3 linked regions of the Homo sapiens genome follow. The protein of the gene in region 3 purifies or fractionates together with the protein of the main gene of each other region. This does not show direct contact. Each region holds a gene or a part of one and is shown on either strand. Other genes may lie near its edges. The genes, in order: RAB11FIP5, JPH1 and ARHGAP26.

Region 1 (7,109 bases), on a different chromosome or scaffold from region 3:
TGCCTCAGTTTTCACGTCTGTAAAATGGAGATAATTTATACCTTCATATGGTTGATGTGAGGGATGAAATGAAAATGCAGCTTAAGCACCTAGTACAGTCCCTGTACATGGTAGGTGGTCAGTGCAGAGCAGTGATGGTGAAGGGAGATTTTAGTAACAATGTCTGGAAGAGCTTCTTATGGGATGGGGGAGACAGTCTAGAACTTAGAGCCTAGGAAAGCCTTAGGACCATGGGTGACGGAGTACACAGAAGAGTACGAGAGTTCCCAACAAAATGAGCTGGCCCTTTGCAGCTCTCTGTATTCTATTTGCTGCAAGAGGCCCAAGAAATAGGGCTGGGCTTGAGAGGCCTCTGCAGTCCTGAAACCAGGCTCAGATAAGCCCGCAGCTCTGCAGCTCTCCTCCCTGGCAGCCCTGCCTGGAGCTGCCCCTGCCCTGTTGGGAAGGAAGGATGGCCCAGGGCTTAAAAACCTGGAGACTGGGATTTCACTCCCCGTTCTGTGACTTACCAGCAGACAGGTTACTTATCCCACTTCCTCACTTTGAAAAAGGTCATGATAATAATCATAGAGTTGTACAGATTAGATAAGACACCATCTGTAAAAGCCTTAATGTAGTTCTGGATACATAGAAGCTCTCAAAATATTAGCGTGGTGGTGACTCTGGGGCCCCATTTTGTGTGATGGTGGTGGCTGGGGTTGTAGGTGCTTCAGCAGCCTCCGAAGGTCTTGTGTGAGTGGGGCAGTCTTTGAAATGAGGAATTTCACCAGAGGCTTCCAAATAATTGAAGAGGATATTCTCAAAACAAAATGTAATGGTAGTACACAAGGAAACTAATGATCTCCCCACCCTCAGTAGAACTGTCCATGGATCGTCATGTTCCTGTTGGTCTGGAAATCCTGGATGCTTCTCTGCGATTTATTTTCTGGTTTTTATCTTCAACATCCTTTTTTTTTTCTTTTTTGAGACAGTGTCTCACTCTGTTGCCCAAGTTGGAGTGCAGTGGCAGAATCTGGGCTCACTTGCAATCTCTCCCTCCCAGGTTCAAGCGATTCTCCTGCCTCAGTCCCCTGAGTAGCTGGGATTACAGGCATGTGCCACCACACCCAGCTAATTTTTGTATTTTTAGTAGAGACTGGGTTTTGCCATGTTGGCCAGGCTGTTCTCAAACTCCTGACCTCAGGTGATCCACCTGTCTTGGCCTCCCAAAGTGCTGGGATTACAGGCATGAGCCACCACGCCTGGCCCAACGTCCTTCTTAGCACTCCCCAGTGGGTGTCCTGTGTTTGCCTCCCTAACTCCCAAGACAGGGATGGGATGTGGTGGTTAGTTAGTTTTCCTTGTTCCCTGTGGGGTCAGATGGGTCATTTGGACCTTTTTGGTCTTTATGCGATTGGTGTGGATCACACCCCCAGGGAATGGACCTGGATATATCAGAAGAGGGAAGGAAGGAAGCAGCAGCAAAGGTTTTGGAGTAAGAAGACAGGGCATCTGCCACAAGGCCATTTTGGTTGGGGAGACCTGGTCTTTGCCCCCTGGAATGCTGGTCTTTGTGTGTTTTAGGAGAGGAGGAGAGAGCACAACTGTGTTATATGGAGCCCCTGTCCACCTTCTCCCTCATCCTGATAAGGGTGAAATGGTCCCTGCGGTAAGGCCTGGAGTGTGGCAGACAGGATCGTCATCCTGGGCCTGTTGGATCAATGGTTAGAAGCTGGCCTCTTGGGAAAGCAAAGGCTGTGGGTTCAGCTTGGGTTGGGATCAGTTTGTCTTTTTTCATCACAAAGACTAAAACTGTTGTGACCATGAATTGTGGCCTGCAAGAGGCTCCGTTCAGCCCCTGCTTAGACTGTGCCACTTGGCAAGGGAGCTCGGAGAGCTGAGGCTGTGAAAGATGTAGGTCTGAGATGAGAGCCTTCTGCCTGGCTGGTCATGGTGTTCTGAGACCTCCTTAGGTGGGTGGGTTTGGGGGCACTGGGAGGCACCTGAGGGGACATGCATCCCATTAGCCTAAGGCTGGGATGGTCTTTGAGGGCTTCCATCTATCCCGTAGCCCACAGACAGCCTGGGCAGACAGTTGGTGGGCAGATGGTGCGTGACCCCACAGCCTTCTCTCTGTTGGCTTCTGGGTGTGACTCTGCCCCTCGGGAAACAGCTGTGGTCACTTGAGCCCCTGGCCTTGGCTCCTGCTCGGCCCCAGAGCTGGCATGGGAGGCCTGTGGCACTGCTGGGGAGGTCTACTCTGGCTGCAGAGGAAGGGTGTGGCTGCACTCAGAAGCCAGTCGTTGGTATGCCGAGGCTCCACGGCCCTTAGTTATGGGGTGGTTTTTATTTGGGGTTGCTTGAGCAGCAGCGTCTTGGGGTGTGGGGCGGGGTAGGAAGTGTGACTCCTCAGTCAGGCTGGGCAGCTCCTCCTCTCTGGCCTGGCAGCTTCCCCTGCCCTCCCCATCTGCCCCTGGCCCTGAGCCCTGGCTGGGACCAGGGAGTTTCAAGGGGCCTGTGGTCAGCCCCATCTCTGCCCCACCTGTCTCTCCTTGTAGGCAGCTGGCTGCAAGGCACAGCTCAGCAGAGCCACATCCCGGTGACCTTGAGGGCTGTCCTTCTCTGCTGGGAGCTGCCCGCCCCACTTGTCACTGCTGCCACCTCAGTGCTGTGACGCTCTTGTCTAAACCACTGGCCTGGCCTTGTCCAGATGTTCTCCTGCCCTTCTCACCCTACGCAGGGACAGATGATGAATACAAGAACAGAAGCTGTTGTGGCTCTGCTCCAGGGGAAGCAGTCCTCTTTTTCTTTCCTTTGCAAAATAGTGTAGCCATGAAGCAGTTTTGTTCTTCCCCACAGCCAAGTAATAAAAATGAGTCCACATGTGAGTCTGCTGTGCACCTGGCAGTCCCTTCAGGGAAGAGTCTGATCACAGTGCCCTTACTGAGCTGGCCTGAGGTTATTTCTACCTTGGGAACAATGGTGGCCAGAGAGGAGAGGGACTTGGCTGGCCACATGAGGCCTCTGTATGGAGCTGGGCCCCGGCCTCTCAGGAGCAGTAAGTGGGGCCTCCCAAAACGGGGCTCCCAGGGGCAGCCAGCACCTCCGAGAAGCTGCAGGGTGGGGAGGGGGTATCACAGGCCACTGTGACCTTTGGTTCACCTGGTAGTGGAGAAGGGAGCACAGCCCTTACTCATGGGACTCCAGCATGGGAGCTGGAAGAGAGCTCAGACAAGGAAACTGGGGTTTGCAGAGGGAGAGCTGCACACTCTCACTACCCAGCACTTAGTGGAGGGTGTGCTCTGTGTGGTTTCCATTAGACCCGGGCAGCCCACAGAGCTGTAGGATTTGGGGTAAAGAAGAGGTGGCATTTGGAGCCCTGTGTGCACCCCGGAGTTTCTGTGGAAGTGCCTGCCAGGTTTTAGTGAGATGGGGACATTGGGCTTCTCTGCTGACCTGGAAGGGTAGTCCAATCCAAAGGCAGTTCTAGAGGCCTGAAAGGCCAAGAGTGGGCCACTGGTGGGGGAGAGATTCCAAAGGGGGGGAAGCCTGGATATCTCCCTACATTTGGAGGAAGCCCTATAGCCAAGTGCTGTGTTTTGGGGCCTAGACAGGGAGCCCTGGAGATGTTCGGAGCAGACAGAGCCACTGGCGCTGGCTGTGGTCTCCTCCTCTGTGAGGAGGGGACATACACCAGAGACCTGTCGGCCATCATGGAACCCATCTGCCTCCCCAGCCTTCTCTGAATCCCCACATCTGGAGCATGTGGCACCTGTTTTGGTGCATTATTTTCATTGCCTCGTTGGTCTAGTGCATTGCTGATGAAGGCCTATCTGGGTGCTGGCACTGTCTTAAGGTCTGGACTTCCATTTGTCCACAGCAAGCCCTTGAGGTGTAGGTGCTGTTTAACAGCTGAGGAAACCTTGGCACGGAGAGGTAAAGTGACTTTGCTTTTTCTTTCTTTTTTTTGAGGGGGTGGGGTCAGGGTCTGGCTCCATCACTGAGGCTGGCATGCAGTGGTGCCATCATAGCTCACTGCAGCCATGAACTCTCAAGTGATCCTCTTGCCTCAGCTTCCCAAAGTGCTGAGATTATAGGCATGAGTCACTGGACTTGACCACAGCACATGGCACAAAGTCAGGATGTGAACCCAGGCAGTCTGGCTTCCCAGTCTATGCTCTTGGCCACCACACCACACTGCCCACCTCAGTCTTCCCCCATGTCTTCCATGACCCTGCTCTGCACAGGGCCAGGTGCTCAGCTGCTGCCTGCCAAGGCTTCCTCTCTTCTCCTTGACATGGATCTCGGGGGTTAATCTGGTGCTCTGTAGGCATGACCTGCTTCTCCTGGGTGAGTCCTTGGTTTATTGGGATAAGCACATTTGGTCTGCAGCTCTAGCCTTATGTCTGTCCCAGAGGCTGGGGGATGTTGTCTCATACTTTGGGAGGGAGTCACTGCCACCAGATACCTCTCGGGAGTGGAGTGAGGGCTGGGTGTGGTGGCTCATGCCTGTAATCCCAGCACTTTGGGAGGCCGCGTCAGGAGGATCACTGGAGGCCAAGAGTTCAAGAGCAACCTAGGCAACATAGCAAGACTCCATTTCTACAAAAATACAAAAAATTAGCTGGGCATGGTGGTGCACACCAGTAGTCCCAGCTACTCAGGAGGCTGAGGTGGGAGGATCACTTGAGCCCGGGAGTTCAAGGCTGCGATTAGCAATGATTGCCCCACTGCACTCCAGCCTGGGTGACAGAGCAAGATCCTGTCTCAAAAAATAAAAATAAAAAAAGGAGTGGAGTGAGGCCTGAGAAGGTCAGCCTCACTTTCCACCAGGGCACTTTCCACCCTGGGGAGATTTGCTCCTTTCAAGCAGGGCTTGGGGGCATCAGCACATACCAGACTCCGTAATCCTTCCCAAGACGTCACATGCTGGTTTTACTGTGACAGAACACTCCAAGCCATCCTGTTCTTCCTCCTGCAGCAATACAGTCATTTGCTATTTTTTCCCTTCTGTTTCACAACATCCAGGAAGCAATTACTGGACAACCATTGTAACCACTGTGCCTAGGTCAGTGCTGTGGGGGAAACCAGGGAAATAAAGTGGATAGCCCTTTCTCCAGAAGGGCTAAAATATGTTTGAGATAAGCCTAACGCAGCAAGGACAATTCCTCTACAAAGCAGCATATAAAAAGCGTGAGAGAATGAGGGGGTCAGGAGAAGAGGGAGCTCACCAGTTGGAGTGATCAGGGTGGGCTTCTTGGGAGAGGTGAGGCCTTGAATAACAGGTGAGACCTGATTAGAGGCAGGGTGAGTTGGAGGCAGGGAAACTGTGAGTGTGGTGGGACTGGGCCAGGAGAGGGAGTGAGGGGAGCCAAGCTTAGTTCCCTGTGTGCCACTCTCAGCAAAACAGCAGGACTTTCTTTACTTCCTATTTAGTTTTGTTTTGTTTTGTTTTGTTTTTTGAGACAGAGTCTTGCTGTGTTGCCCAGGCTGGAGTGCAATGGTGTGATCTTGGCTCACTACAGCCTCCGCCTCCCAGGTTCAAGTGATTCTCCTGCCTCAGCCTACCGAGCAGCTGGGACTACAGGTGCGTGCCACCACGCCCAGCTAATTTTTGTATTTTTAGTAGAGACCATGTTGGCCAGGCTGGTCTCGAACTCCTGACCTCAAGTGATCTGCCTGCCTCAGCCTCCCAAAGTGCTGGGATTACAGGTGTGAGCCACCACACCTGGCCCCTATTTACTTTTGAGTAGTTCACCTGGTCCAAATTCTAAAGGTACAGAAGGGCACATAATGAAAAAAATTTCCCTTGACCCACCTTAAGTCACCTAGCTCCTCTCTTCAGAGACATCCAACATTACCAGTTCTTGTGTAACCTTCCAAAGGTGTTTTCTGCATTTAAAGGCAAATGCGTTGTGTTTTTTCTTCCCTCCCTCCTTGTTCCCAAATGCAACGTTCTCACCACACAGTTCTGTACTTCCCATGAGCCTGGCAGGGAAGTTATTGTTTGTTTCCCCCTGTTGTGGGGTCTGAACTGAGACCTTGGCAGAGGGGACCATCGCCACTTGGTTTTGTCTTCCTCAACCTGAGTCTCCTGGTCAGGGTGAATATGGGGTTAGGAGCACACTGGGGAGGGGGATGGGTTAAGTGGAATTTCTTTATTTTTCCACCTGCCAGAGATCCCCTGAGAGAGGTCATCTTGCGGGTTCTCTCCTTCCTCCTGGGCAGGGTTGTTGCTTTTTGGTCCTGGGCCACCTCACTTATATGGGGCTGATGATGGCCTGTAAAAGGCCTTTGATAGACAATAAACCCACATCTTTCTGTGTGGTTTGGCCTACTTTTAAGGGTGCCTTCCCAGTATCACCTCATTTCATTCTTCCCTGAGGGCAGACAGGGGGATCACCATTTTTGCGAATATGGAGACTGGGGTCTCAGGAGGTGGAATGACCTGTCCAAGGTCACACAACTCTTTAGTGGCAGCCAGATTTCTGATGTCTAAGCCTGATGCTTTTCTCCCTACACTGTGCTATCAACCCTACATCTTTTCTGTTGCTCTCTGTGGTTTGACTTGTCTCCAGCCATTTTTGCAGCTTTTCCTTGTGCTGGGTGAGCTGACAGTGACAGACCTTTGGAGCCTACAGCATTAGGATGAGGATTAAAAGTGCTTGTGCCCAGGAGGGAGGGAGGCTGGACCTGGCTGGGGTCTGAGGAGGGATGAGTGAGCTGTCCCCACAGAGGCAGGGGGAACTCATGAATGAGGACCTGGGCTCCCTCCAAAGGTTGCTGGTGCCAGGCATGGTGCCAGAGGAGGTGATAAGAATCATCTTCTGGCCTGATAAGAGGCTGTATCCTGTCCTGCAATTATGTCTGGCTTGCAGTTTTACTGTAGATACCAAATCAAAAGATGGGGTAGGCGGTGGATGCGGGGAGACAGCAGGGGTTGGCTTGAGGCCCACACAGCTCCTGTGTGCCAGTGTGTGAGGCAGGCTGCTGTGGTGGGCACTTGGAGAGGAGAGGAGGCATCAGGGTGGAGGAGGCTCTAGGGAAAAGGGTTTTCCAACTGTGTCACCATACTCTGAATATAATAGTTCTAGTTTCACTTTACCTTGTCTTTAACTGCATGATTTTAT
Region 2 (7,109 bases), on a different chromosome or scaffold from region 3:
GAAATTTTCCAGGTGGTAAGAAAATAAAAAACAGGAAATCAAAATACAGAAAGAAATCCTAACTCAAAAAATTATCTTTTTTTCCTTTAAGAGATTGTCACTCATATTTAAAACTGTAAGGAATTTTCTGCTAGAAGAGTTACTATGGTTTATGTGAAATCTAAAGCTTCTCTAGCTAGAAACACAAGAGAAGAACAAAGTTTAATTAAGTATTAACAGCAAAGTTTAATTATATATATTTACCTCTTTCGGGGGTGAGGTTCAAACCCAATTTGATGGGGACGCTTTAAATTTTACACAAATTCAAAAGAAAGATTAGATGAACCTCAAAACAAACTTGGATGCAAATCACAGGAATGGCTGAGAAAAAAGTGTAGTCATTTTTCAGAATGGGCTGAGATACCTAATTGGAAAATTCCCCTCTTGTCTACTTGATGGTAAGACGCTAAAGATGCCTCTTCTGACCCTACCAGAGTTGTCATGTTGCAAAACTCTACAAAAATTTCGGGATCACATTGAATGCGTGCCCCTAGGACATGAGTCCATACGCAACCATTGCCCACAGGGGTCACAAAAGTTTCTTGAGGAAAATCTTCCTCAAGAAAGTAATCAATGCCACAGCCTCCCTTCTCCTACCTCTCATACTCGAGTTAACTAATTTCCTGTGTTAGTCTCCATCCCAGGAGATTTTCTGTATTTCTAGGAGATCAATAGCCAGGGTGATCCTGAGGATGGATCAGATCTACTTGAATATTTCTGAACTGCTTATGCTTCAGTTAGCATTGTGTTGAAACAAACATCATAATAGCCAAGGTTTTTTGAGCATTTATTCTGCGCTAGGCACTATGCTAAGAACTTTTAAAGTATTGACTCATTTAATCTTCACAACAACCCTGTGATAGGTACAGATGAGGAAACCAAGGCACAGAGCAGTTAGGAAACTGTCCAGGGTCACACAGCTGGTAAGCAACAGAGCTGGGATGTGAACCGAGGAAGTTCAGCAACAGAGTTCAATTCTGTGAATTTTAAAATTATTCACGAATGTCTAACTTATACAGTGTCTTTCTCTCAAAACTATGTAGTACTCCATTATCTTAAAGGTCATCCACTGACAACATTTATGATGACTGTGCCACTTCCTAACTCTGAGGAGTGGGGACGGCAGCGTTCTGTTACTATTGGGAAGACAATGTTAATTATTAGAATCTTCGCGTGAAGGTGTCAAGTCGGTCTTGAATTTTGCAGAGGCAGTCTAAAGCTCAGGGTAGCTGCGGAGCTGCTGGGGCTTCCCTTCCCCCTTGGGGTGTAGAGGGGTACCCTAAGGACCAACTACTGAGATGGAGGATGCTTGTCTAACTCCAAGAATCTGAGAATTCCGCAAATAAGTAAAACAGATGTTTTTTCTAAATGAGGAGGCTGTGAATTTACCAAACATACGTATACTACTGTTTTACAGAGAGACTCTTTCAGCTAAGAGCTGGGTAATTCAACTTTTTTTTCCCCCTATCACAGCCTAATGTATAGGACGCTGGGGCATACACTTCCCCTTGTAGAAGTCTAGAAGTCAACTAAAGCCCACAAATGGGTACCCAAAGGTATAAAAGGTATGGCCTTGCATTGTTTGAATTTTTCCCTGTGTAAATCAGGCAAACTAACACTGATATATGCGAGGCCTTATTAACCTGGGGATAAACATGCTGAAAGTCAAATGAGAAGTAAGCTATTACATTTAACAAATTCAATAGTGATTATTATAGTTGTAATGTCAAGATACTGTCATATTAAGGTTTAAAATCTTTAAAATGAATGCTTACTGAAGAGTCAGAATCTTAAAGTTAGTCTGTTTTGAAAACAATTTTTCTCCATGCAGGTGGACTCCTAGGAAGTTGGTCCAGTTAATCTGAATAATTTATGTTTAGCTAATTAAAAAGTTGAAAATTTGAAAAAAGAAGAGAACCAGTGTTTTATAGATATTAGCAAAATAAACACACAAGAAATTTTAAGCATAAGTTAACAGAGGAATTTTAATTGTTTAATCCTGTGAGTAAATCAAACAGACAAAAATAAGAAACTGATGGCTGTACTATATTCTTGTTGGCCAAGATATTAATCCACACCATTATGCAAATATGTCTCTATAATTTCTAGTGAATACTAGGTGTGTAACTTTCAACACCTCTGTTCTAAAGGGATGTGATCAGGTCAAGAGGTCATTTTTTAATCAATAATTAGCTTCAGATTTTATAAATACTATAGCATTTGATAAAACACTAATTCCATACATTATTCAAAAAATCTCCTTTTAAAGAAGGTATAAAGATTTTTCAATAACACAGAGCTTTTCTGGCTGAATAATAAATAAATATCTTAAATGCTTAAGACTAATTGATACTAATAACCTGCATCTACCAGAAAACTGAAATTGTAAGAGTTCTCACACTTTGAAAAGACAGAAGACCAAAGAAATTCTCTTGAACTGTTGGAAATTTTCAGTTCTCTTTTGGGAAAGAAAAATGTTCTAGCTGCAAAGCCTGGCTAATTAAAGTCCAAACTACGTATGTATGAGAAGAATTCACAACGGCTAGAGGAGACGTTCTTTTGTGTAAAGATGCTGACCGCTGTGGTGAAAACAGGAGAACTAAGAACTTGTTGGTGCCCTTTTCCTAGAGCTCTGAGAGCGGCTGGCCCTTGGCAGGGGTCATGATTCCTTTCCAGCAATCAGAGAGCAAGCTACCAGGAAGCTCACCAAGACACGCTGTTAAAGCCTTGCTAAAATGTGCTAAGATGCTGTGCTAAGCTGGTCAGGTCTTACCTACCTGAATTACATCTAAAGTGGGGCTGGGTGAACATAGGGGTGGTGGGGGGAATTTCTGCCCAGAGAGCTCTTTGCTGTCTCAAGCTACCAATGTGTTATGTGCTGCTCTAAACAACCCTGTGCTTCTAGAACCTTGGTTAGCCTGGCTGTGATCAAGATGCACAGTCACCCCACACAGCTCGCTGAAAGAAACAAAGGGAAGAAAGAAAGAGAAAACGCTACTTGCAGTACTTACTGAATTGGCTTCTTTTTCCAAAGCAGGGCATGAATCGTTGCTTGCTGGATTCTTTGGTATAGCAAGTTCAGACTTCTTAGCTTTTGGCTCAGCTTTGCTTTCTTTGGCAACTGGTTTTGTCACAGATTTGGAGGGACTCCACTTGTTAGCGGATGGCTTGTGCACCAGTGCTGAGGAAGACTGGCTGGATCCATCGCCGTCCTCCACGTCTACTGGAGGGTGCTGGGGGGCGTTCAGCTTCACGTAGTAGCCGTGATACTGAGAATGCAGCTCCCCGTTACTGGGGTTGGGGATGTGGTGGCGGCCAGAGTACTTGGACTGGGGCACAACCGCTCCTGCCTCCTTCGTGGGAGCCTTTGACATCAAGGGCTTATTGACAATGGCCGTCACCTGCTCATCAGCCACACTCCTTTTGTCTTGGTTGAGTCTCGCCCCTGAGCTGGGGTTTTGCTTCTTCAGGGGCTTTGGGGAGGAAGCAGGAGAGTGGCTGTGTTTGGGACTTGCCTCAGGAGATCTTGGGGGTGTCGTGCCTTTGCGATAAAAATGAGGAGACTCCTTTGGTGTAGGTGGCTTTTCTGGTACCTTTTCTTCTGGATTTTCTTTAGCATCTACACCTTCCTGAAATCTCTGTTTGACGTAATCAGGGCCTGGCCAAAAAAAAAAGAAAAAAGAAAAAAAGAAAGGAGGTATATATACATATATTTTGCTAAATCAGATTAACCTTTTCTCTTTTAAAAATAATATATTCATAAGGCTTTGACTAAACACATATTTCATTCTCTGGGGAAAAGTTTATTTATTATGGAAAGGCTGCTTTTAAGATAATACAGAATCTAAACAGTTCTGGCTTCCCTGATAATTGCATTCTTTCTGCCTACTTGCAGAATACAGAGGCAAAATTCATGTTGATGGAACATTGGTCGCAATATCATAATTAATCTGCTTGTTCAAATTATGTGGTGTAACTAAGACACAGAAAGTGTATACTTGTACAAGGAAGTAAGCTGACTACTGTAAGCATCTGAAAATTTAATAAAGTATACTGTAAGAGGAGAACCTGTAGATAACATATTTTTAATGATCTGTCATCAAACATGCACTAAAACTTCCTAGTTTGAAACAATTTCTGAGGCTTAGGTTGCACGACACAAAGTCACTTCCATGTAGTCCATTCACAGCTATGGAAAACACGGATTTGCACAAGCAGTGTTTTGCAGGTATCAAAGTCAAGACAAGGCAGTTGTCTCTGGTTCTGTAGCTTCAAGATTTTTTTTTTCCTTTTTTATATACCTCAGGATTGTTTATAAAAATCTTGTTACTTTTTTATAAATGGGAACAAATTTTCATTAAAAAAGAGGCTATTCTTCTGACAGAGGAGGAAAAAATGAAAAAAAAAAAAAAAAAGTGGCCCTGCTGCATTGTTATTTTACAGGGAGTGAGCTATAAAGAAACAGAGTGTGTGCCACAAAATGTCCAGGCCCTGGGAACTCGAGGAGGCTGTGGTCTGGAAAGGGGCATCTCTGGGCTGAGACAGAGACCTTAGACTTCTAGGGCCTTCAGCTCTCAGCAAGTCATGTGCGTACTTTGGCTACCACTCCACCCATCTGCCACTTTTCGCCTCATAAGGTGAGGTCAAGGTCACATGCAGTGCAACTGACCCTCTTCCTCACAAATGGGCAGAAGCTGACAATGTCTCTTGAGTATACATGGAAGACACTGCCCCCACCGACATGCTTATAGAGAGTTGACAGGCTCTTGTCAATTCCACAACACTGCATCTGTTCATTTTCCTTCCTGCCTTCTACCCCCAACCCTTCACCCCAGACAAACTCACTAACTCACTAAAAGATTTACAGAGGGACTGAACAGCAATTATCCTTAATTGTGAAACTACATACTGCACACTTACACTTGTAATTGCTCTTCCCATGGTGGTCTGAGTAATAAGTTATTGTAATGAGGCTGCTATTTAATTATACAAGGAATTTTCCAAAATTTAAAGCCTCACCAAAATCTTAGGGAGTAGGTGTTATTATCCCCATTTTACTGAAAGGGAAACAGCTATAGCAACTGAAAAAAAAATCACATAGCTCCCATTATCTTTTCAGAAAAAAACATAATGCAACACATAATATTTTAAAGCCAGAGACAAGAATTCCTGAGCACCCACCATCGCAAGTTATACTCAGGGCACAAAACATAATAGTATTATCACAGTTTCCACCTTCTAGAAGATACATCCACTCCTGGGGATTCAAGTTTCCCAAATTTGTCAAGATCGCACATGGACAATTGAGACTTCCTTTCTAAACTGGGTAAGCTCCCCCTTTACATAACTGACAATTTTCTTTTAATTCCTCCATCAAAAATGGCAATGTTAATTCTTAGGCCAGTGAAAGTTATTTTGAATGACAAAAAGCAGCAACTGCAAGCATTCAAAAGGCGATGTCCTTCTGTTTCTGAATTCTTTCTTGGTGCTGTGTGTCTGGACATAGCATTAAGGGGAAAAAGGGCAGCATGAGCACAAAAAAGTTATCTTTCATCAGCTGAACTGTCCCTGCTCTTTAAAACTCATCAGGTCATTGATACTAGTCTGTCATGGAGAAGCCCCTTGTGATTCACCTGCAGGCATATTTTAACAAAACCCCTCTTCTTCTGTGATAAAGTATATTCTCTAATACATCTTGATGCAGTGTGATGTTTACATACTTTTCCCTCACTTCTCTACCCAAAATTTCACTATGGTTGGTTTTATTTGTGCTTTACTGATATTCAACTTCATAGCATTACTAAAATACCCATCTAGGTATGGTAGTGGATGTACTTTGCAAAGATAATTAAAATAGTCAAGGGCCTTGGAGCCAACGGACTTTTAATTTAAGCCACTTAATGCTGAAACAATTACATAAAATACAAAGTGCTTTTAACATCTTTGATCTAAAGATAAATGCAAGTTATTTTTGCATAGAAAAATTGCCAATATCTACTAAGATTAAGGCACATTAAAAGCTAATGTTTAACTTAAATATACAGAAAAGAGTGAAAAAATAGACTCTGGCAAACATTTTTCGTTATGCATTCTCAAAGTTGGAGGGAAAAGGTAAAGAGTCACTGCGCCCTGAGAAATGAAGCTGTCACAAAGCCCATGCATTTCACTTAGAAGATGTAAGACCATGAGATTGTAGCTTACAAATTTAGGATTTAAATCTTTGTGATGCCCTCGTCACAAAAAAATGTCATTTTTTTGAGGTGATAAATAGGTTAATTAGCTTGATTTAATCATTCCATATTGTATTAAGAAATTGTAACATCACTTTGTACTTCATAAATATATACAACTATAACTTATCAATATATACATTAAAAACATTAGGATGTATCCTAGTGACCTTCAGCACCATCAGTATAGGTGGATAGGCCAAGGTGAGACTGATTTGGCCGTTGGAATAATTTGTATTAATGAACTTATGAAGCTAAATTTTGGATTCCATTGAAAGTATTTCTTATGATATTTATCAACTCTCAAATACTGGTCTAATCACTTCTTTAACCTTTAGAAATCTGATGTGTCACCTCTTTGGACACAGTTTTCTTGTCCTAAATGCAGTAAGAAAGGCATGTCTTACATGATTACTCATGCCCACTCTGCTAAGATGAGTTTAGGTATACTCACTCAAATTGATCTACAGGGCTTCTGATGATACTCAAAAATGATGAGCTCAAAGAATTTACTAGAATGGTGGAAGTACATTTTAGCATCAACTTTCACATTTAAAAAATTCCTAGCTTTATTATGCATTCAAAAAATATCTGGGTAAGGGAAAAAATGCACTCCTAAGCAGGGGCGCCTATGCTTGCTGCCTATCAGAGCATCTGAGGTGTTATGGCCAGATATTTTAATAAGTATGAATTGAAGCCTAGAAATATTAATGTTTAACAAATGATCCGAGTGATTCTAACGCACTGGGTTATAGGCATTTGACACTATGCTAGCAATATGTTGATACTGCTTGCATTGATTGGTTATATTGCTTGGTTCATATGTCCATAGCACCAGCC
Region 3 (7,109 bases):
GGGAAATCTAGAGAACAGGAAAGAAAACTAAGAAAGGGTGTGAGTGAAACAGAGAAATGGCTATTCAAAGGCTATTCAAAATGACAGCAACCAAAAAAAAAAAAAAAAAAAACCCCAGAAAATTTGCAAGGAAATTAGAAGCAGGGGGTAAGGATTTGAAGGAAAGTAAGATGATGACAAGAAGCTGGATTGATTGATTGAGACAGGGTCTTGCTCTGTCGCCCAGGCTGGAGTGCAGTGGTGCAATCACGGCTCACTGCAGCCTCGACCTGCTGAGCCCAAGCGATCCTCCCGCTTCGGCACTCCCCCTCCTCCAAGTAGCTGGGACTACAGACACGCTCCATCAAACCTAGGTAGTTTTTGTATATTTTGTAGAGACAAGGTTTTGCCATGTTGCCCAGGCTGTTCTTAAACTCCTGGGCTAAAGCAATTCACCTGCCTCAGCCTCCCAAGGTACTGGCATTACAGGCGTGAACCACCAGGCCCAGCCTCTAGAAGCTGGATATCTTTAAAGAGTAGTTCTTAGCAGTCTTCCATGGGCACTGCACTGAGTACATAGTTGATACTGGGCAGGTGGGTGGGTGGATGGATGGAAGGAAGGAAGGAAGGAAGGAAGGATGGAAGGATGGATACATGTATGGATGGACCAGGACAACTGTTGCCCTCTAACAAGAGTAGGAATCTGTCACTTCTTTGTAGTTTAAACCAGGAGCTTCAGAAAATCCGTGAAACCCCTAAAATTGTACACAAAATTTTGTATGTCTGTGTCTGTTTCCTTTTTCATTGTAAAGAAAGTTCAGGACAGCTTTCATCAGAAGGCTTATATTCCACAAAAGGTTCAGAACCTTTGGTTTAAACTTCTAGAATGATGTAACTTAATAAGTGATTGTACTCATTGTCCAAGCTTCCTTCATACACACACACACACACACACACACACACACACACACACCCCACACACACATCTGCCGCCTGCTCTATCTGTAATGCCATCTCTTCTCGCTTTCTCTCCCCTTCCTGTACAGTTCACCCATCTCAGGAGCCTGGCTGGTTGGAGGGGACTCTGAACGGAAAGACTGGCCTCATCCCTGAGAATTACGTGGAGTTCCTCTAACCGTGGGCCCCAGCAGAACTGCTGAGCTTTACATGGTATCCATGACAACTGCTGATTCCAGTGTCGAGGCCATTTCTCTTTGCCACTGAGAAATGCAGCGTGACTGACTCTGTTGCTACCTGTCAACATGAATGTTTCTGTGAGCTCTGGTGTCACTCATCTCCATGATCATCTCAGCCAACATGCATCAGTACTGCAAGAAAAGAAGTCAATCAGCAGAGGAGAGCATTTGATAACTAAGAGGAAGACTTGCAAAGCCGTTTTCTCATGAGTACCCTGAATAGGGGGCACTCATTTTGTTTCAACGGTCCAAACGCCCAACCTTCAGAAAGAGGAAGTCAGATAGAAATAGTCCCTGAGAGCACACTGTGTAGCTAAGCCTGCTGGGGCTGGGTGAAGAAATTGGCGCTGAGATCCAGGCTGGATCCATTGCTTTTGTTTACAATAGGCACTCTCTCTACCCCACCTCTCAGTACTTGAGACTTAAAGTGCTACAGGCAGCTGGATCTGTTTGCATGCAGGATGAAGAGGGTTAAAACACTGTTTATATAAGATCCAATCTCTCACCATCTCTAAAGCAGCCGTTGGCCTGTCATCAGTGAGATACAATCCAGTCTTCTCATGCACGGGAACACACACACCCTGCGTTTCTCCCTCCCAGGCTAGGAACCTCTCTGCCACCAAGGGCTGCCATCCATCGCCTAGTAACCACGGCAACCCAACCTACTCTAAAACCAAACCAAAAAAATAAAATAACACATCCTCTTTGCATGACACATTTTTTTTCTCCCCTTTTTGGTACACTTTTTTTGAATGGTTTTCTAACAACTTGAAGCACAGGATCAAGGAATTAGGGTGGTCTACTTGAGGCAGATGGGATAGTAGCTGGGAACTGTTCCCTTTCTGATTAATTTCAGCAGCATCGGAATATATTTGGAGCACACCCTAGTAACCTCTTGAGATTAAATTACATAGTCTTAATATTTCTGTTCCTCCATGCAACTGATGTTTGTTTTTTAAAGGGTAAGATGCTGCCTCCCAATGGGTGATGCCATCTGACTGGTTTCCCCATGTCCTCCCATTCACCCATCTCTGCTCCCACCCTTGCCTGCCTCTAACCCACCACTGGCCAGCCCCCTTGCCCTACTCTGGGCTGCTGAACACTGGTGCTGTGGTGGTTTTCAAGGTTAATTCCTAGGCTAACCGTATGGCCTATAGTTTAAAAGCACATCTATGTTCACTGCCACTCTGAAAAAGGGAATTATTTCTCAGTCTTTCAAGGCTTGAGACTAATATAGGCCATTGTGATTCAGGAAGAAACCCAAGGTTGGAGGGTGGGATGAGTACCCTCTGAAAAAGGGAATTTGCTGGTGAAAAGAGGCTGGATCTTGTGGAAGACTGTCTTGGATGGGGAAGTACTACCTGGAGATTTCAAATTCACTTGGCCTGCAAACAACAGAGTTATCCGTATCTTCCACATGTGAATGTCATTGCAAGGGTGACTCTAGACAAACTACAAACCGATGGACCGTCAAGCTCCCCAGGAGCCCCTTGGATGGCAGCGTTGCTTCAGAGTGTTTCCTGTTTCTGGAATTCCTTGTTAGGGAACTTTAAAGAAGAAAAGAAAAACTTGAATTGTGTTGAATTACTGTATCTTTTACTTTTTTTTTTTTGAAAAGATAAACTTGTAAATAGAGTGATTTGAAATACTATATGGCAAAGTTTTATATTTGATATTCTTTAAGTTAGTTGCTCACACACTTAGGCTTTGATTGCTGAAGAAGTATGTTTAAGAGGGAGAGAGGGGAGGCAAAGCTGAAGAGAGTCAAGGTCACTGTCCCCGCTTCGGCCTGAAGGAAAGAGAAGACATTTCTATGGCCTTGCTCTCTGCTGTCCTGTTGGTGGGCACGACACATCAGTGGTGTTCAGTCTTTATGTGTTTTTAAGCATCCCTTGGGCTTTGGATTTGGAGATGGGAAGAGCATCTCCAGGCAATGAGTTTTTCAAAGAATGCCTACTTAGTAGTAAGATGAAGCTCAGGATTTAAATAAGTGGGGTCAGGCATTCGAGTTTTTGTCTTTCTTCTCAGGTGTATTTCTTGGTACCCCCAAGATATCAGGCCAGAAAGAGATGAGTCAGTTGCTGTGCTCTTTACTTCTTTTTCTCCACATCTTCTGAGGCTTTAGAAATGTGGACAAGCTAGTTTTCAAATTTTGTGTGCGTCTGTAAGTTCTTAAAGAACCAGCTTCTTAGAATGTTCAGTTCTCAATGTGCTGCTGCTTTCCCTTCTCCTAAACATTTTAAAACTCTTCCCTTTCACCTCCAATTCCCGTGATCCCAAAAGAAGAGGAAGACTCCAGGAGGGGTATAGATTGTGCCGTCATAGCTTTACAGGTGGTTTTAAAGTTAACAGGGGTTTGTCATGGTGATTCACTACTCAGTTTATCAGCTCAAGGATTATACAGCTCTTTTCCGGGAACTCACCCAGGAGCAAGCGAGACACTACCATTGAATCAGGGAATGAGAATTAAGAATGGACAGGACCAAGACAGAACTCAAGAAAGCCACTGGGGAAAACTCGAGAAGAAAGGGAGTATACTAGTAGGTTAGATCTGTGAACCTGAGGACAAGAAGACCTTGGGAAATGGAGGCCTCAGGGGATGTGCATTCACATACTATTACGCTTCTCAAAGAGAGACCAACATCATGCTTTTAACACATTTGATGAGGTTTTTTATTTGTGTTTTTGTTTGTTTTTTGAGATGGAGTCTCACTCTGTGGCCCAGGCTGGAGTGCAGTGGCGCAATCTTGGCTCACTGCAACCTCCACCTCCCAGGTTCAAGTGATTCTCCTGTCTCAGCCTCCCAAGTAGCTGGGACTACAGGCATGAGCCATCACACCCAGCTAGTTTTTTGTATTTTTAGTAAAGATGGGGTTTTGCCATGTTTGCCAGGCTGATCTCGAACTCCTGACCTCAAGTGATCTGCCCACTTCAGACCCCCAAAGTGCTGGGATTCCAGGTGTGAGCCGCTGCGGCCGACCACATTTGATGTTTGAAGTTGTAATCTGTCCCATCATAAACTTACCTGGAGCTCATGTGGAGGAACAGAAGGCCAAGATCCTTGCTTTGGGGGTGCCTCACGAAGCATCCCTGTAGACATTTGGCCCCAGCTTCACTGCTTGGAAGCATGTCCCTCCCTCTTGAGTTGGCTCTGATTTGAAATCGGGAGAAACAGAGCTGCTGCCAATGGGATCTTTTAGGTAACTCCCTCCCTAGCTTCCGTGTGTCTGTGCAGTGCCCATGAGCTGCTGCCAATGGGATCTTTCAGGTACCCCCTCCCCAGCTTCCCTGTGGCTGTGCGGTGCCCTTGACAGATGGCTTCTCTGTTTCCCTTTGCCCAGCCAGGCTCCCCTCCTTCCTATTAGCTACAAAACTGGATAAACTTCAGAATATGAGCCAATGAGTAGGAAGGAACTTGAAGACTAAAGATTTTACTCTCTCCCCTATCCATGCCCCCTACCTCTGACTCTCTCTGTGTGAACAGGAAACTTTAGGGCAGATGAGGAGAATGAATTGGTTATCAGAGTGGAAGACCATGGCCCAGGATCCCTGAGCTTTCCCAGTAGCCTCCAGTTTCCTTTGTAAGACCCAGGGATCACTTAGCCATAGCCTGAATCTTTTAGGGGTATTAAGGTCAGCCTCTCACTCTTCCTTCAGGTTACTAACAAAATTTCGTAGCTAAAGAATGCCATGGCCGGGTGCAGTGGCTCACGCCTATAATCCCAGCACTTTGGGAGGCCGAGGCGGGCGGATCACGAGGTCAGGAGATTGAGACCATCCTGGCTACGACGGTGAAACCCCGTCTCTACTAAAAATACAAAAAATTAGCCGGGTGTGGTGGCGGGCGCCTGTAGTCCCAGCTACTCTGGAGGCTGAGGCAGGAGAATGGCATGAACCCAGGAGGCAGAGATTGCAGTGAGCCAAGATCACGCCCCTGCACTCCAGCCTGGGTGACAGAGCCAGACTCCGTCTCAAAGGAAAAAAAAAAAAAAAAAAAAAGAATGCCATGCCAGGAGAAGACAGCTGGTTTCAAATCCCTGCCCCCAGGCAAGTAAAACCCTGACTTGCTCAAGACAGAAGATCTTTTCTCCTGTTTTTCAAAATAAACATATATAGGGATGGACCCTGTGCATTGTGGCCTGCCTTGGTGTCCTAGAATTGGAGCCAGTCTTTAGCTTAATGTCTGAAGTATTTATACGGCCAATATGTGTTTTCTTATGTCAGACCACACTGTCTTTTTGAATATCAGTTCATTTCCTCTCACCGAGTGCTTTTCGGTGAGAGGCAAAGAGAAAGAATGAACAATCAAGTATTGACAGACTGGCATTAGCAGGACAGAGCCATACTAGTGACAAGGGCATCCCAAGGCACTTGCCCAGAGCTGCAGAGTTGTGTGTGCCATACCTGCGGCTCAAAGGGAAGGCCTTCTATCCCCTGAGTTTCTATCAGCTGAAAATGGCAACTGCTGTCTCAGTAAAAGCTCTGTCTTGACTGCAGAGGCTCCAAAAGCATTCACAGTTGAGGGGGAGAAAGACAGAAAGAAGAAGCCAAAGATAACCTGATCCCTGCCTGTCTGTTGGCACCTGTCATCCTCTGGCTTCTGCTCCCAAAAGCAAGTCTGGATGACTGAGTTTTGTGGACATGGCACTCCCGGAGACAGCAGTGGCCACCATGGCACCCAGAGTTTGCCCAAGTACTGAATGTTTTGTGAGCAACCATGTTCCCCAAGTAGGTAGCCAGCGCTGCAGAAACCAAACAGCCTCTTAGCTACCTGACTTTAAAAGGAATGACCTAGGTGTTCTGCCAAAGGAGTTATCTATCATCTCTGGCAAACTTGACAATCATCACTTACCTCGACAACCCTGCCCCACATCACTTTATAAAGTCAGCAGGATGTCTTCTCACCCACCCTGTGCTGGTGTCTAACAAATTTATCTTGTCATGCTCAAATGTGTTTGGCAGCCACACCGATCGGCTGGGTGCTGAACCGCCTCTCTGTAATTGTAGCATCAAAATGACAACAGCAGCAGAGCAGCGAATCTTGCACAGCCCCACAGCATGCCTGAGACAAGACTCCAACAAGTAATAATTAGCTTTTTTTCTCCTGCCGCCTACAGTACCTGTCTAACTAAAGAGCTTCCCAAAGTGGAGGGAAAGGCCATAGAATCCAGGTGTCATTCAGAGCCAGTCCTTGCTGAAATGTGGTCTTCCAGTGGAAGCACCTGTATTATTGAGAGGAAAAAGTGTTGGATGCAAAGTAACACCAGGACTAGAGAGAAAGAGAAAGGTGAACCATCCTAAGGAGCTTTGGATACTTTTTTAGAAGGATAAATATTATGCTTACTGAGGAGAAAAAAAAAAGCGATCACAGAAAAATTTCACAGCTAATATTTTTACAAAAGTTGTGCCAGACATTACAGAGTGAAAACGTCTCTCAAGGTGGAATGCTTTAGAGAGCAAAGGCTTAGCATAGACCTAGACCCTTGTGTGGGTATGACATGACATGACATGTCCATGTCAAAATTCACTTTAGTCAGAACCAGAGTATTGATAAACAAAATGTCAGTTACCTGGAGCAGTCCTGGAGAGGTTAAGACATTCTATACTGTTCTACGTCAACCATTTCTACAAAGTTGTCCAGACACCTAAAAGCAGCTTTCTTGGTTATCCAGATGCCAGAATCAACCTTGTATCTGACAATGCACATCTGTTGATTCTAAAGTATATTTATGTGTGTGTGTATGTGTGTGTATACAGCACATATTTACATCTATGAAGACATAGACACTTACAGAGACCCACATGAGCTGGCACTTTCTGAGCCTTTACAGCCTTTAAGACTCGGAGGTTGAGAATTAGAGACACAAGAGAGGCTGTGGATGGCCTATTAAAATGATTAAAGATGTAAATTCAGTGCCATTTTAAAACTGTTCA

The links.
Region 1: the proteins of ARHGAP26 (region 3) and RAB11FIP5 purify together in Homo sapiens (affinity purification with mass spectrometry; 2 studies listed by BioGRID and IntAct, with this or other methods). This does not show direct contact.
Region 2: the proteins of ARHGAP26 (region 3) and JPH1 purify together in Homo sapiens (affinity purification with mass spectrometry; 3 studies listed by BioGRID and IntAct, with this or other methods). This does not show direct contact.

Annotation. Positions count from the first base shown.
Region 1 is NC_000002.12:73,102,900-73,110,008, reverse strand, and holds part of RAB11FIP5 (rab11 family-interacting protein 5), read left to right. Parts: intron 1-7,109. UniProt on the Homo sapiens protein: Rab effector involved in protein trafficking from apical recycling endosomes to the apical plasma membrane. Involved in insulin granule exocytosis. May regulate V-ATPase intracellular transport in response to extracellular acidosis.
Region 2 is NC_000008.11:74,241,479-74,248,587, forward strand, and holds part of JPH1 (junctophilin-1), read right to left. Parts: intron 3,698-7,109; coding exon 3,051-3,697; intron 1-3,050. UniProt on the Homo sapiens protein: Junctophilins contribute to the formation of junctional membrane complexes (JMCs) which link the plasma membrane with the endoplasmic or sarcoplasmic reticulum in excitable cells.
Region 3 is NC_000005.10:143,221,333-143,228,441, forward strand, and holds part of ARHGAP26 (rho GTPase-activating protein 26), read left to right. Parts: exon of another isoform or gene 1-91; intron 92-1,025; coding exon 1,026-1,114; 3' UTR 1,115-7,109. UniProt on the Homo sapiens protein: GTPase-activating protein for RHOA and CDC42. Facilitates mitochondrial quality control by promoting Parkin-mediated recruitment of autophagosomes to damaged mitochondria.